Regions from separate parts of the Homo sapiens genome. Here region 1 is linked to region 2. Evidence: fine-mapped expression QTL. A gene starts in region 2. The other region holds a variant in brackets. All regions are shown on one strand. Distances are from middle to middle. Region 1 overlaps PACC1 (proton activated chloride channel 1). Region 2 holds the start of NENF (neudesin neurotrophic factor).

Region 1 (5,376 bases), 43 kb before region 2:
CCCCATCCCAAAGACACTCTCTTCCCATCTATGTGCTTTTCGAGGCCCATCTCAAATCCTACCTCTCTGCCAAGCTTTCCCTGACCCCTCTAGTAGCCTGCAGTAGCTGCTCCAGGCTCTGTCCATTTCTGTCCTCAGCACGTAACACACTCCCAACAGCAGCTCCTTGGGCATAGACTCTATACCTAGACTATGCTTGGTTGGACTCCTCTGCCCTGCCCGTAGTACCACAAATACAACGGCAGCTCAGGGAGTATCTGCCAGCTGACACCCTAGATCTGGGGCCCTGATGCCTGGCCCAGGGGCAGGCTCTACCTGGGGCATCATAGCGATCCACTTCCTTGTAAGACACAGACATGACAGGGTGCTTGAGTTTCTCACGAAAGTCTGTGATGGTCCGGTAGACCAGGAAGACGGCCACAGCCATGAGCAGCAGGTAGATGAAGATGAGTAGGACCGAGAAGACGTTCTTCAGGCAGGCCTTGCTGAAGCGGATGCTGCTGGAGGCGGACTCGCTGTCCAGGCCTGACAACAACAAAACACCATGTGACCCAGGGCACAGGGACAAGGTACAGACAGAGATGGCCAGCAACCTCCAGGCCCTTGCCTGCCTCACCAAGGAGGTGAAGTCACCTGCACGCCCAACCTTTCCACCTCACCCCACAAATCATAACAAAGGGCACCTGTAAACATTTACTACACAGCTTCTCTGCCAGGTAGAGGACACCAAGCTGAAGGAGACTTATTCATTGTCTTTAAGGAGTTTACTCTCAAAAGAAAAAAGATAAAAGATAAAAAACGATAAAAATGTTAAAAGAAAAAGCAAAAAACAAACAAAAAGAACAGAAAAAAGGAGTTTACTCTCTAGAGGGATAGGCAGTTACAATCCAACAAGTGAGCTGGCCCCAACCTACCTCTCTGGCCTTATCCCTCACTGCTCCACTTCCCCAGTTCTCCCAGCTCTAGCTCCACCTCTACTCATCGACTTTCTGTTCTTCTGGAGTGCCCTTCTCAACCCGGGATTCCCTCACACTTACCATTCCCTCTGCTTGATTTTCTTTTCTTCCACAGCTGATGCTTCACTCATCCTAAGCCCCGAAAGCTTTTTGCTTGGCATCTGGCTTCCAACAGTGACAGAGTAGCTTGGTCACGCCATCCTTCCATGGAAGCATTTTAATTTAGAAAGACATTTTCTTGGCCAGGCGCAGTGGCTCAAGCCTGTAATCCCAGCACTTTGGGAGGCCGAGGCAGGAGGATCACCTGAGGTCGGGAGTTCGAGACCAGCCTGACCAACATGGTGAAACCCCTGTCTCTACTAAAAATACAAAATTAGCTGGGCGTGGTGGCGCATGCCTGTAATCCCAGCTACTCAAGAGGCTGAGGCAGGAGAATTGCTTGAACCCAGGAGGCGGAGGTTGCAGTGAGCCGAGATTACTCCATTGCACTCCAGCCTGGGCAACAAGAGCGAAACTCCATCTCAAAAAAAAAAAAAAAAGAAAAAAGAAAGAAAGACATTTTCTTGAGGAAGCCTCTCCTGACCCCTAACCTTTATTTGGGCACCTCTTCCTCAGTGTTCCCAGGGAGCCCTGTACGTCCCCTACTTCATCACTCTGCAATGTCATGTCTATACATCTTTTATCCTCCTAGGCTGTGAGTTCCATGAGGGCAGGGATGGGGCCAGTCTTATCCCTAACTGAATCCTTAGCCCTTCATGCTATGCCTGGAACATTCTGCATTTACATGGTGACTGATTGAACACGTCCTGATGCTATTGGTACAACACAACTCTGTCTCCCCTACCTCCCTCACAAAATCCTGAGGCTAGAAGCTAGATTAATCTCTGTTATGGACGAAACTGTATCCCCCACCCTCAAATTCAGGTTGAAGCCCTAACCCTCAATGTGAGTATATTTAGAGACAGGGACTTCAAGGATATAATTAAGGTTAAATGTGGCCATAAGGATGAGGCCTGATCCAATAGGACCAGAATCCTTATAAGAGGAGGAGACACTAGGAGCACATGCACACAGGAAAAAAGGCCATGTGAGGACACAATGAGAAGGCAGCCATCTGCAAGCCAAGGAGAAAGGCCTCACCAGAATTCAATCCTGCTGGCACCTTGATATTGGATTCTCGCTTCCAGAACTGTGAGAAATAAATTTCTGTTGTTTATGCCACTCAACTGTGGCATTTTGTTACAGCAGTCTGAGCTGACTAAGATACTCCCACAGGGCTCCCTGTGCCCTCTCTGCTCCTCAGCTGAAAATGGAGCTCCCTGAGAAGAAGTCCTATTTCCTCCACAGCCCAGCTGAGCACAAGGCTGAGAACAAGGGAAGCATCTGAACGTAAGCCCCAAAAGGTATCTGCTTGGCATCTGGCTTCCAACAGTGACAGAGTAGCAGTGTCACATCACCCTTCCACAGAAAACAATTATAAACTTTGGACAACATATTTTAAATTATTTGAAGGCACTGGGAGAATGATCAAAAGCAGGTAGAAATTGAAAGAGAGGCTACCCTTGAAAGAGAAGAACTGTACTTGGTGAGATTTATACATCTGTAGCTTTTTGCCTAAGAATACATGCCAATCCCTATAAGGCATGGTTCAGAGTGACAGGGACAAAGTTCAGGGCTGGAAGAGCAGCCAGAAAGTTAAGACAAAACCATGAAAGGGAGGGAGCCACACAGGGGGTGAAACTCCCAAATCTGCAACTAAATATATGTTCAGATCCTTGGCTGGAGAACCCAGGGGGGGCCAGCAAAAAGTAACAACTGGAAATTGAAAGAACTGCATGGAGATTTCAACTACGGCTAATGCAGGGGAGATAGGAGTTTAGAGCTTAAATCTTGCCATATTAACAATATGCCAAGAAAAAAAAATACCCTTCTGAAGATCATAACAGAATCCAGAATCTCTATATCATTCATAATGTCCAGTGTTCAATCAAAAATCACTAGACATGCTAAGAAACAAGAAAATGTGACCTGTACTCAAGAAAAAAGCAATCTA[T/A]AGAAACCAACACCAAGATGACCCAGTGTTGCAATTTAGCAGAGAGAAAATTTACAGCACTTAAAGGAAAATATCTGAATAAGGAATAAAGACAAGATCAATAGAGAAACAGAAACTAATAACAATGGCCAAATATATAGAATTTCAGTTTTGCAGGATGAAAAAGCATTGTGGAGATGGATGGTGGTGATGGTTGCACAGCAATATGAAAGTGCTTAATATCACTGAACTCTACATTTTAATGAGTAAGATGATGAGTTTTACATTACGTGTATCTAACCACTGTAAAAATGTTTCATAAAATTTAAAAAAACAGATGGAAATTCCAGATCTGACAAGAAATAAATGAAATAAAAAGTTCACTGTATAGGCTTAATAGCAAAAGATGGCAGAGAAAGAGTTTGTGAACTCAAAGTTAAATCAACAGAAACTATCCAATTTGAAGAAAATATTGAAGGAAAAAAAAAACCAAATGGAGCCCGGAAAATTGTTACAGTATCTAGCAGTGTAGTGACATGTAACTGGAGACAGAAAATGGGTCACAAAAAATATCTGAGGCCGGGGGTGTGGTGGTTCACCCCTGTAATCCCAGCACTTTGGGAGGCTGAGGCAGGCGGATCACAAGGTCAAGAGATCGAAACCATCCTGGCCAATGTGGTGAAACCCCGTCTCTACTAAAAATACAAAAATGAGCTGGGCGTGGTGGTGCATGCCTATAATCCCAGCTACTCAGGAGGCTGAGGCAGGAGAATCGCTTGAACCCGGGAGGCGGAGGTTGCAGTGAGTTGAGATCACGCCATTGCACTCCAGCCTAGGAAACAAGAGCAAAACTCCATCTCAAAAAGAAAAAAAAAAAAAAAAAAGACTATTGATATTGGGTTCTAAGATGGCTGAATAGGAACAGCTCCAGTCTACAGCTCCCAGCGAGAGAGATGCAGAAGATGGGTGATTTCTGCATTTCCAACTGAGGTACTGGGTTCGTATCACTGGGGCTTGTCATACAGTGGGTGCAGGACAGTGGGTGCAGCGCACCGAGTGTGAGCTGAAGCAGGGTGAGGCATCGCCTCACCCGGGAAGCAGAAAGGGTCAGGGAATTCCCTTTCATAGCCAAGCAAAGCTGTGACAGATGGCACCTGGAAAATCGGGCCACTCCCACCCTAATACCGTGCTTTTCCAATGGTCTTAGCAAATGGCACACCAGGAGATTATATCCCGCGCCTGGCTCAGAGGGTCCCACACCCACGGAGCCTCGCTCATTGCTAGCACAGCAGTCTGAGATCCAACTGCAAGGCGGCAGTGAGGCTGGGGGAGGGGCACCTGCCATGGCTGAGGCTTGAGTAGGTAAACAAAGCGGCCGGGAAGCTCGAACTGGGTGGAGCCCACCGCAGCTCAAGGAGGCCTGCCTGCCTCTGTAGGCTCCACCTCTGGGGGCAGGGCATAGCCGAACAAAAGGCAGCAGAAACCTCTGTAGATTTAAATGTCCCTGTCTGACAGCTTTGAAGAGAGTAGTGGTTCTCCTAGCACAGGGTTTGAGATCTGAGAACAGACAGACTGCCTCCTCAAGTGGGTCCCTGAACCCTGAGTAGCCTATCTGGGAGGCACCCCCAAGTAGGGGCAGACTGACATCTCACACGGCCAGGTACCCTTCTGAGACAAAACCTCCAGAGGAACGATCAGACAGCAACATTGGCTGTTCATCAATATTCGCTGTTCTGCAGCCTCCGCTGCTGATACCCAGGCAAACAGGGTCTGGAGTGCACCTCCAGCAAACTCCAACAGACCTGCAGCTGAGAGTCCTGACTGTTAGAAGGAAAACTAACAAACAGAAAGGACATCCACACCAAAACCCCATCTGTACATCACTATCATCAAAGACCAAAGGTAAATAAAACCACAAAGATGGGGAAAAAAACAGAACAGAAAAACTGAAAATTCTAAAAATCAGAGTGCCTCTCCTCCTCCAAAGGAACGCAGCTCCTCACCAGCAACGGAACAAAGCTGGACAGAGAATGACTTTGATGTGTTGAGAGAAGAAGTCTTCAGACGATCAAACTTCTCCAAGCTAAAGGAGGAAGTTCAAACCCAACGCAAAGAAGTTAAAAACCTTGAAAAAAGATTAGACGAATGGCTAACTAGAATAACCAATGCAGAGAAGTCCTTAAAGGACCTGATGGAGCTGAAACCCATGGCATGAGAACTACATGATGAATGCACAAGCTTCAGTAGCCGATTCAACCAACTGGAAGAAAGGGTATCAGTGATGGAAGATCAAATGAATGAAATGAAGCGAGAAGAGAAGTTTAGAGAAAAAAAGAATTTAAAAAAACGAACAAAGCCTCCAAGAAATATGGGACTATGTGAAAAGAC
Region 2 (5,376 bases):
GAAACCTGTAACATGGAATGGTTACTACCCCAACACTATAATTGCACCCTTCTTGTAACTAGCCAAACGTGGATGGGATGGCAAAATGAGTCTTTATGGCTAGGTGCTTGTACTTCTCCTTGGGGTTGATTATGGGCATGTGGGTCACATGGCTGGCCATATGTGCCTTATAATTGGACTGGAAGATGTACATAGGGTCATCTTCATCTCCCAGGATGTATCCTCACTAAATTATAATCTCTCCCATCTAACTGGGAAACTGTAAAAGCTCGTCATAAGTGACAAAAGCAGTCTTCTTGGTTGTTTTACCCATTGGCTATCTGTCACATGTGTCCGTATAGAAGACCACCTAAACAGGCTTTGTGTGAGCAACAGGGCTGTTTATTCACTTGGGTGCAAGTGGGCTGAGTACGAAAAGAGAGTCAGCGAAGGTAGATAGGAGAGGGGCAGCTTTATAGGACTGAGGTAGGCAGTGGAATGTTACAGTTAGAGGTGGTTATCTATTGTCAGCAGAGGAGGGGGTCACAGGGTCCATGGTGGGGAGATCATAAGATTCATTGTCCAGAAGAAGAATGTCACAAGGTCGATTGATCAGTTGGGGCAGGACAGGAACAATTCATAATGGTGGAACGTCGTAAGGCTGGTCAATCAGTCAAGGCAGGAGCTTCTTTTGTTGCACTTCTTTTGTGTTTTTTTGGCTGCTCCAGACTTCTTGGCTCCTGCAGGCCATCTGGACTTATAGGTGCAGGTCACAAGGGTTACAATGGCTGAGCTTCAGCTCAGAGGCCTGACACTGTCTTCTCCCCACAGGCAGCCACAATTGACATTGAGCTTCAAGCCAAAGCCATAGCTAAACACAGCTGCAGTTTTCAATAATACACGCCATGCCCTTACCCTCTTGACTGAAGAAACATCTCAAATTAGACAGATAGCCTTATGAAACTATGGCTCTGGACATGTTAACAGCAGCTCAAAGGGGGAACTTATGCTATAATCAAAACAGAATGTTATGCATACATTCCAGACTATTCACATAATGTTACTCAGGCCACAAAAGACTTAGACACCCACATCTCTGCCATTGACACGCTGTCAGTTGACCCCATATCAGCTTGGTTCTAACAACTGCCTAGTCCTTGGGAAACTTTTTTTGTTTAGCATGCTTGGGATAATTCTATTCATTCTGTTTTGTGCTGTGGAATATACTGCATTGTACTTTTTATGTAGGAATAAGAGTTAAGCTTATTCAATGCTTCTTTAAATTTAACACGTTAATTTTCTAGATTTCACCTTTTTCTGGGACTTAGAATTATGTATGATTGGTCCTCACTATACAGATGCTTTCTGACTGGCTAGCTCTCTACTTTGGGCAAAGGGATCCTAATGGTTAGGCAGGAATATCATCGCTTCTGTTCAGCTTGAAGTTACTGAAGATGGATCTCTGTCCCCCTGCACCCCTTAGGATTAAAGGTCTCCTTGTAAAAAGGAGGAGGGAATTATGTCAGAAGTGTCCTAACCAGAGTGATTCCATCTTGAATAAAGGTCAGATAAAGCCAAACCTGCTGGGCGACTTTCCCAGGAAGATAGGCACTCTTCACAAGATGTTTATGGTTGAGGAAATGAGATAATGGAAAAAGGCATTCTTAGTTTAAAAATGAGTTTCACTTTAAAGATAACAGTACACCCATAAATTCTCCCTGAAGTCAATAGTTACACAAGAGAATAACAATACTAATAGTCTGTAACAAGCTGATCATAGGCTTTTGTAATGAAGTACGCTAGTTTTAGCCCTATAAAAGCAAGCATTACATTGAAGGCAGAGGTGCTCCTATATAAACAATACTTGCTTAGTACTACTTCAAAGCAAGGATACTACTCAGAAACACAGTAGTACTATTATTAGAAATGGAGTAGTTTCTAATGAACTATTTTAACTACTATGCTCTGCGACTTGCCCTGATTCTTTGCCGTGGACGTCTAAGAACCTGCTCTTGGGTCTGGAATGAGACCCTTTTTCTGTTAATTCCTCTATTCCAGTCTTGAAAGTAAAAGCCAGTCTTGAAAATAACCTGTGAAGCCCCCAAGATCCACCCCCACTCCCTTACCCGCTTCCTTCCTGACTTCACCTACCCCTCTTACCTTCCCTTGATCCTCCAGCAAGCCGGGCATCCTCATTCCTCCGCATTTATGCACCTGATCCTTTGACCAAAGTGCTCTTCCCTCTAGACCGCCTCCTTCGCCTCCTGTAGATTTTTATGCAAATACCCTGTTCTCAGTGAGGCCTTCCCTAACCTGCCTATTTAAAATGACCATCCCCATAACCGGGCACCGTTCCTCACACCTGTAATCCCAGCACTTTGGGTGGATGAGGTGGATGGTTCACTTGAGGCCAGGAGTTCGAGACCAGCCTGGCCAGCATATAGTGAAACCTCATCTCGACTAAAAATTAAAAAAAAAAAAAATTAGCCAGGCGTGGTGGTGGGTGCCTGTAATCCCAACTACTCTGGTGGCTGAGGCAGGAGAATCACTTGAACCCGGAAGGTGGAGGTTGCAGTGGGCCGAGATGGCGCCACTGCACTCCAGCGTAGGCGACAGACTCCGTCTCAAAAATAAATAAATACATAACAATAAAATAAAATAAAATGTCCATCCCAGTGCTCCCTATCTCTTTGCCCTACTTTTTCTCCCTAGTATTTACCACCATCTAACATACTACTTAGCATCTTATTGTCTATCTGCCCACACAATGTAAGCTTCACGTGGGCGTGGATCTGTCTTGTTCAGTGGTGAGTCCCCAGTGACCTGGTACATGGAGGTACTCAAAAATATTTGTTGCATAAAGTAATGAGCAAAGTTTGGCACAAATGTTAGCTATTATTATTTCAGGGCGTATCGGTAACAGCACCCTACCCTTTGCAAAAATCTCCTTGGGAACCAGAAACTTAAACACAACCAGGAAGAAAAAAAATCAGCCAAAAATAAAAGCGAATTAAGACAGTTGGGGTCTTATTTTAGAAATATACCTTTCTAGGTTCTGGTATGTTGGGCTCTGTCATCTTTCTACCTGATCAAGGAACCACTGTGACATTTTTTGGTAACTTCCAGTCTGTAGTTTGGATTTAGGAGTTCAGGATTCCAATCCTAATTTCCAGGTTCCAGCTGCGTGGCCCGAGTAGCCCGGCCAGCCCCACCCCGGGGCGCAGGAGGCGCGCGAAGGGCGGGAGTTCTCGGGTCCCCGCCCTCGGGGAGGCTCTGGGCGCGGGGCGGGACTCCGGGACGCTGGGCGGGCGTGCTAGGGCCCCGCCGCCCTGGCCCGGCCTTGCCTTGCGCTGCGCGCTCACCATGGTGGGCCCCGCGCCGCGGCGGCGGCTGCGGCCGCTGGCAGCGCTGGCCCTGGTCCTGGCGCTGGCCCCGGGGCTGCCCACAGCCCGGGCCGGGCAGACACCGCGCCCTGCCGAGCGGGGGCCCCCAGTGCGGCTTTTCACCGAGGAGGAGCTGGCCCGCTATGGCGGGGAGGAGGTAGGCGGGGGTGTCGCGGGCCGAGGGACCCGGGGTGGCGTCCGATCTGCGGCGAGCCGAGCGGGGACCCAGGAGGCGCCGGCGGCCCAGGAAGCTCTGGGGGACGCGCGGCCCGCGGCGGGCGCCCTGGGCCGGCGGGGGGCCTCCTCTCTCTAGGCCCCGAAGGATGGCCGAGGGGTGAGGACGAGTCCTCAACAGTCGGAGCGCTCCGCTTTGCCCGCACACCCCACCCTGAACTTCTCCCTCGGTCCCCGGGAGATTTCCCCTCTAGCCGCCTTTTCGTTGATGATCTGCGTACAGACCTCAGAACTTTTTGGTTTTCATGTTAGCATCAGCCGAGGCGTTTACTGTGCCCACGCATAGTGGGGAGTGGCGGGGGACGGAGGGAGGGAAGCAGAGCCTGCTCCCTGGGTTAGGTGGGAATTGAGACAGGTCCTGGGATAAGCCAGTCTTTGCCTGCACTTCCTTTTCCTGCCCCTGTATCCCAGGCCTCTGCATCGGACTCCTCAAACCCACTTTTAGGTCATGTACCCCTGGGGCTCAGCCAAAGCTGGAAGTGAGCGCAGAGGGTGGACTGGAGGTTAGAGACCCCCACAACCCCCCCGCCACACGTCAATAGAGACCCCCCCGCCCACACACACCCACACACGTCAATAGTCTAGAGGCGTCCAGAAAACTCACAACCACCTGCCCACCTGGGTTGGTTGGGACTGGAGCCGCACGACAAGGACCAACAGGGGGCTGATATTAGATGTGGAGCGGGGGAACGGCATTGGGGGGAGGTCATAGTACCATAGTATTTCAGAGCTGGCAGGAACCCATCTCCTGCTTTTACACATAAGGAAACTGAGGCCTGCCACCTGTTAGTGGTAGAGCAGGAAGAGGCCTGATGTTTTTCAAAACCCTCTGGCCTGGTCTCGCTAATTCCTGAGTTAATTGGCCTTATATGGACTAGGATTGCATGGGGGTATCAGAAACCTGGCCCTTAGTCAGTGATGCCAGTTTGGGCATCATTTGTGAAGGGGCCATTTAGAACCATGAGTCAGTGAGGACACCGAGGGAGGGAGACATGGCTGGGATGTGAGGATGTTAAGGGATGCCTTTTTGCCGGTAGCAGAGGGAACCAGATGGTTCAGAGTCCAGGCATCCGTGCAGAAAAGAATTAACATGGCAGGCCTGCTCTCCTTAGAAAAGCCTACTTGCAAGGGTGGGACTTGTCTAGTGTCTGGATTTCTCACCCTTCCCTACCCAATAACGGTGGACTCACTTGCCTAGGCCGTATATACAGATGGTGTGGTTAGTATTGAACACTGTATATGCTAGGCAGAGGGTGCCCCATGTGACCAGCCCCCAGTGAAAACCTTGGGTGCTGAGTCTAATGGGCATCTCTAGCAGAGGAATGTTCTGCCAGAAGAATGGCACATACTGTCAAGTTTTGTTGCTGGGGGAAGAGTGTGCTCTTCCTCATGGGAGGGAGAGAGCATAGGAAACCTGCACATAGATTCCCCTAGATTCTCCCTCTGTGTTTTTCCTTCCCAGCTGTGAGTAGAACTATATGCTGGGTTCTTGGAATCTTCCTTCTAGGGACTCTCCAACTGACCCGATGATCTTTGGGACCACTGGCACAAGAATCTAAGGAAAGAGAGAGTTCACCACTGAGGTTACAGCAAGAGTGCCAGAACTGCAAGATGAGGACTGAGAAAAGACCCTTGGTTTTTTGATGTTGATGTTATAGATTGAAATTTAACTGAGAGAGAGAGGACCTTGAGATGGAAACAGGGGTAGGAAACAATTGTTTTGGGAGTGGAGCCTGAGGATCTCTGTAGGTGGAAGGAAGGAGCCAGAGAGAGGAGGGGA

Evidence for each region. PIP is the estimated chance that this variant, and not a neighbour inherited with it, causes the effect.
Region 1: its variant is the best candidate, but not a certain one, in a credible set for the expression of NENF in whole blood (INTERVAL, PIP 0.88).

The regions. Positions count from the first base shown.
Region 1 is chr1:212,386,576-212,391,951 of GRCh38, forward strand. PACC1 (proton activated chloride channel 1) reads right to left here. Exons shown (of 8, transcript NM_018252.3): 3 at 316-525. Among named protein-coding and RNA genes, the nearest start is that of PACC1, 26 kb to the right of the region's middle. The variant T/A (reference allele first, on the strand shown) is at 3,010.
Region 2 is chr1:212,429,602-212,434,977 of GRCh38, forward strand. NENF (neudesin neurotrophic factor) reads left to right here and starts at 3,319. Exons shown (of 4, transcript NM_013349.5): 1 at 3,319-3,519. The coding sequence starts at 3,343. It overlaps LOC105372906 (a long non-coding RNA gene), which reads right to left and starts at 3,216. Exons shown (of 3, transcript XR_922577.4): 1 at 3,024-3,216; 2 at 2,140-2,243; 3 at 360-730. RefSeq lists a cis regulatory region at 1,394-1,681, a silencer at 3,105-3,664 and an enhancer at 3,825-3,914.